Regions from separate parts of the Homo sapiens genome. Here region 1 is linked to region 2. The links come from fine-mapping of genetic effects on gene expression. A gene starts in region 2. The other region holds a variant in brackets. All regions are shown on one strand. Distances are from middle to middle. Region 1 overlaps MEOX1 (mesenchyme homeobox 1). Region 2 holds the start of LINC02594 (long intergenic non-protein coding RNA 2594).

The links. PIP is the estimated chance that this variant, and not a neighbour inherited with it, causes the effect.
Region 1: its variant is the best candidate, but not a certain one, in a credible set for the expression of LINC02594 in whole blood (TOPMed, PIP 0.60).

What each region holds. Positions count from the first base shown.
Region 1 is chr17:43,654,612-43,657,515 of GRCh38, forward strand. All of the region lies in intron 1 of MEOX1 (mesenchyme homeobox 1), which reads right to left. Among named protein-coding and RNA genes, the nearest start is that of MEOX1, 5.9 kb to the right of the region's middle. The variant C/A (reference allele first, on the strand shown) is at 1,136.
Region 2 is chr17:43,663,545-43,666,448 of GRCh38, forward strand. It overlaps LINC02594 (long intergenic non-protein coding RNA 2594), which reads left to right and starts at 1,320. Exons shown (of 4, transcript NR_184089.1): 1 at 1,320-1,455. RefSeq lists an enhancer at 2,102-2,627.

The DNA of each region.
Region 1 (2,904 bases), 8.9 kb before region 2:
AGAGTTCAAGACCAATCTGGCCAACATAGCGAGACCCCTGTCTCTATATTTTATTCTAATAATAAATAATTTTTTTGGAAAATTAAAAATATAATTACTACATAATATAGCAATTTCCCTTCTAGGTATACACTCAAAAGAATTGAAAATACACTCTCCAGCCGGGTGCAGTGACTCACACCTGTAATCCCAGTGCTTTGGGAGGCTGAGGCCAGTGGATCACGAGGTCAGGAGATTGAGACCATCCTGGCTAACACAGTGAAACCCCGTCTCTACTAAAAATACAAAAAATTAGCCAGACGTGGTGGTGGGCGCCTGTAGTCCCAGCTACTCGGGAGGCTGAGGTAGGAGAATGGCATGAACCCGGGAGGCGGAGCTTGCAGTGAGCTGAGATCGCGCCACTGCACTCTAGCCTGGGTGACAGAGTGAGACTCCGTCTCAAAAAAGAAAAAGAAAAAGAAAATACACTCTCCAGGAGGTATTTGCACACTCATGTTCATTGCAGCATTATTCACAACTGCCAAGAGGTGGAAGCAACCTACATGTTCATCAACAGATGAATGGATAAAGAAATTTGGTGGCCGGGCACAGTGGCTCACGCCTGTAGTCCCAGCACTTTGGGAGGCTGAGGCAGGCAGATCACAAGGTCAAGAAATTGAGACTATCCTGGCCAACATGGTGAAACCCCGTCTCTATTAAAAATACAAAAATTAGCTGGGCGTGGTGGCGTGTGCCTGTAGTCCCAGCTACTTGGGAGGCTGAGGCAGGAGAATCACTTGAATACGGGAGGCGGAGGTTGCAGTGAGCCGAGATCGCGCCACTGCACTCCAGCCTGGCAACAGAGTGAGACTCCGTCTCAAAAAAAAAAAAAAGAAGAAAGAAATTTGGTATATCCATACAATGGAATGTTATTGTCTTCAGAAAGAAGGAGGCCAGGCATGGTGGCTCACACCTATAATTCCAGCACTTTGGGAGGCCAAGGTGGGAGGACTGCTAGAAGCCCTGAGTTCAACACCTGCCTCGGCAGCATAGCAAGACCCTGTCTTTCTAAAAAAAAAAAAAAAAAAAAAAAAAAGAAGAAAATCCTGTCACTTGCTACAACCTGGTTGAAACTTGAGGACATTATGCCAAGTGA[C/A]ATAAGCCAGTCACAAAAATGACAAACATTGCATGATTTCACTTATGTAAGGTATCTAAAATAGTCAAATGTTTAGCAAGAGAAAGAATGGTGATTGCTAGGGGGTGGGGGAAGGGAAAAAAGGTCGTTGTTTAATGGAGATAGAGTTTCGGTTTTGCAAGATTAAAAGTTCTAGAAATCGATTGCACAACTACTGTACTGTATCACTTAAAAACTGTTAAGACGGTAACTTTTATGTTATGTGTATTTGACCCCAATTTTTAAAAAAGGAGATTTCAAATATAAGATGTCCCAGGTAAGAAACCTCAGAAGAGTTCCTTTATGAAACAACTGCAAGCTAAAGTGAGAAAATCAACACAGATTCTAGCAGATACTAGACTTCGACATTTCTTAACTGTAGCTTTCTTTGATACTATGTTATATGCAAATGTAGCTATAAATTTTTGAAAAAGAAGAACAAAAATATTCTTGGAAGGGGTTGTTTTTGAGCTGGGTGGTTTTTAAGTAGGACTTCAACAGGCAGAAGTACGGGGAAGGGGAGAGTGCTCTAGGCAAGGAGAAACCACCAGAGCACAGTCAGAGAGGGGGAAGAAAATGCAGGATGTGTTTGCAAGGTCAGTCCCTGGGTGTGGCTTCGTGGCAGGGGTAGTGGAGGGGACCTGGGGCGGGGAGGTGGCCTGTAAAGGGGCATCAGGAGGGAAAAGAGGAGAGAGGCCTATTTGTGGAGTTTTATACCTTAGGCAAATTTGTGGTTGGGCGGAGGCAGGCATAGAGCAGGTCTTGCAAAGAGAAATTGGGGCAGGACAGCTCTGGGAACACACGTGTTGGAGCTGAAGAAGGATGAGACAAATCACGTCTGATTAAAGGCATGTCTCAGCAGAGTGAGGACGTGAGAGCAGGAGGGAGCAGTGCTGAGTTCTAGCACCATGGCTTTCCCAGGCGGGCGATCGGATTCACCTGTAGCCACTCTAATCACACGCAACCTTCCCTTGAACCCCATGAGGAAACCACCGCAAAATCCTTCATTCCCATAAATTAAAGACAACCACAGTAGCAAGGACAGTTTGGGGGAAAACAACAGTGGCCTCACAGCTGTCCCTGCCAGCAGGGGTCTTTAATCCCCATTGGCCTGGGGCTGGGAGTGGTTTGGGTAAGATAACACCATGCTGGTCTCCAGGGTGGGGAAGTGCCAAAGGCCAGGAACCCTGCTTTCTTTCTTTCTCCCCGTTTGTTCATTTTCTTTCTTTCTTTTTCTTTCTTTCTTTCTCTTTCTTTCTTTCTTTCTTTCTTTCTTTCTTTCTTTCTTTCTTTCCTTCCTTCCTTCTTTCTTTCTTTTCTTTCTTTCTTTTTCTTTCTCTCTTTTTCTCTCTGTCTCCTTCCTTCCTTCCTTTCTTCCTTTCTCTCTCTCTTTCTTTCTTTCTTTCTTTTTTTTTTTTTTTTTTGATGTAGTCCCGCTCTGTCACCCAGGCTGAATGAAGTGCAGTGGCGTGATCTCTGCTCACTGCAATCTCCACCTCCCAAGTTCAAGCTATTCTCCTGCCTCAGCTTCCCAAGTAGCTGGGATTTACAGGTGCCTGCCACCACACCTGGCTAATTTTTTTTTTTTTTTTTTGTATTTTTAGTAGAGATAGGGTTTCACCATGTTGGCCAGGTCAGTCTTGAACTCCTGGCCTCAGGTGATCCGCCTGGCTCAGCCTCCCAAAGTGCTGGGATTATAGGCATGAGCCACCGCGCCCGGCCAACCCTTGCTTTCTTGATAATTTCTTTGA
Region 2 (2,904 bases):
GTGGAATCAGCACTTGGCCTCAGGTGTCCTGCTGTTCAGTTTGGAGCAGGCCAGATGCAGAGGAGGAGGCATGGGGTTTGAGGTTAGACGGGTCTGAGTTCAAGCCCCAGGTCTGCCACTTCCTGGCTGTGTGCCCTGGAACAAGTCACCTTATCTCTCTGAACTTCTTTTTTTTTTTTTTCTTTTTGAGATGGAGTCTCGTTCTGTCGCCCAGGCTGGAGTGCAGTGGCATGATCTCAGCTCACTGCAAGCTCCGCCTCCCGGGCTCACGCCATTCTCTTGCCTCAGCCTCCCGAGTAGCTGGGACTACAAGCACCCGCCACCACGCCCGGCTAATTTTTTGTATTTTTTAGTAGAGACGGGGTTTCACCGTGTTAGCCAGGATGGTCTCAATCTCCTGACCTCGTGATCCGCCCGCCTCGGCCTCCCAAAGTGCTGGGATTACAGGCATGAGCCACCATGCCTGGCCATCTCTCTGAACTTCTGTTTCCTCATCTGAGATGACAGTCAGAGTGGGATCTGTGTAAGGCACTTTGCACCTTACACATTTTTACCCCCACGGATTCCCACAAAAGCCTTCTGAGGCAACAGTCATTCTCATCAGCTCCGTTTCTCTCTCTCTCTTTTTTTTTTATCAGCTCCGTTTTTCAGCAGAAGACTCTGATGCACAGATAGACTGTGTAACCTGCACAAGGCCACACAGCAGGGAAGCGGCGGACCCAGGATTCAAATTGAGGCAGCCCAGCCCACAGACATTTGCAAATCTTCAATGAAATCCTTTATGTAGGCCAGGCACGGTGGCTCAGACCTATAATCCCAGCACTTTGGAAGGCTGAGGCAGGCAGATCATTTGAGGCCAGGAGTTCAAGACCAGCCCGGCCAACATGGTAAAACCCCGTCTCTAATAGAAATACAAAAATTAGGCCGGGCGCGGTGGCTCACGCCTGTAATCCCACCACTTTGGGAGGCCGAGGCGGGTGGATCATGCGGTCAGGAGATCGAGACCATCCTGGCTAACACAGTGAAACCCCGTCTCTACTAGAAATACAAAAAAAAAAAAAAAAAGGCGGGCGTGGTGGCGGGCGCCTGTAGTCCCAGCTACTTGGGAGGCTGAAGCAGGAGAATGGTGTGAACCCGGGAAGCAGAGCTTGCAGTGCACCGAGATCACGTCACTGCACTCCAGCCTGGGTGACAGAGCGAGACTCCATCTCAAAAAAAAAAAAAAAAAGAAATACAAAAATTAGCTGGGTGTGGTGGCACATGCCTGTAATCCCAGCTACTCGGGAGGCTGAGGGCAGGAGAATCGCTTGAGCCTGGGAAGCAGAGAGGTTGCGGTAAGCCAAGATTGTACAACTGCACTCCGGCCTGGGCGACAGAGTGAGACACTGTCTCAAAAAAAAAAAAAAAGAAAAAGAAAAAGAAATAAAGAAAGAAATCCTTTATGCAAAAGGCAGAGTAAGTAATGGACAAATGTGGCTCCCTTCCTAGCACATCTATTTCTGGTTAACCTCGATGATCCCAAAGGGTGAACCTGGGAATGGGGAGTTCTGAGGAAATTCTACAGAAACAGCCTTGTGAGGTCCTTTGTGGGGGGCACGCTGTGCTGTGGGGGTTCTGGAAGGAATCCGTGGGAGGCTGGGAGGAAGATCTGGCTTGTCAGCTTCCCTAGGAAAACCTTCCCCTGGGCTGGCCGCAGGCTGTAACCGGATTCCTGCTCCACCTCTGCATCTGGCCCAGGGACCTCATGGCAGGGAGGCCCAGCGCCTGGCCCTTTGCCCCTGGACGGGGTGGGCCCTGGGTCATGGTGGGGTGGGTGGGGAGGTCAGGAGGGCCATGGGGAGGGGGCGCGGTGGGGTGCTTTGCCCTGAGAACACAGGCCTCTGGCACCCCGGAGCCCCCGGCAGCTGCTGGCGTCTGTCAGCCACCTTGCGGGGCGCGGCCGGGGGCTGCTGGCCCCTACATCTTCCTGACAGGCCCCTCTTCTGAGGCCAGGAAAAAACAACAACAGTTCCTCCCCTCACGGCAACCCATTTGTTAGATGAAGGCCGGGCACCAGCACCTTTAACCTCCTCAAAGTCAGCGTTTCCCTGTCAAGGCCCCACAGGGCCAGAGACAGAGATGGATGGAAGGAGCTGTGTGTCGAAAAAGCCCTGTGGCCTCATGAGGAGAGCTCTGTTTTCAGGAAGGGAGGGGACCCCGGTTTCTGATTGTTGGGGAGAATAAGGGGAGGAAGAGGAAAAGTGTGAGTCACGAGGAGGTCCCCCAGGGGCGTGGGGGGGCCCAGGAGGGCTTTCAGCCTGGCCACACCTGAGCCATCACGTGGAACTTGCGGAATGTCTCCCATTGTGCGTGGCAGGCAGGCGTGTACTTGGCAGGACAGGGCTGCTTCTGTTTGTGGCCACCCCACCCCCTTGTGCTTGGAGAGGCAGGGTGTCAGGGCAAGGCCCTGGACCTGGAGGCAGAAGACACGGGTTCAAGGTGTGACCTTGCCTGTTACCGGCTGTGTGGTCTCAGGCAAATCACACCCTTCTCTGAGCTTCATTTTTCTCACTGGCAAAATGGAGTTGACAGTTCCGGCCTCACCTGGCGGTTAGGAGGATAAATGAACTGCATCTGAGAACAGAGCTGGCTGACTATAAAGGGTGATGCATGTGAGGAATAGCTTGTCCTTAACTATGCTGAACCACTGGGCAGGACACAGCACAATGTAGGTGAAGACGGCTCATCCCAGCCCCCAGATACCTTCTATGGCAACATAACACAAGGGTCCAAATCATGGCCTTGGGAATTGGGGGCCTGTGGGTTCAAACCTCAGCTCTGTTTTTTTGTTTTTTGTTTTGAGACGGAGTCTTGCTCTGTTGCCCAGGCTGGAGTGCAGTGGTGGGATCTCGGCTCACCGCAACC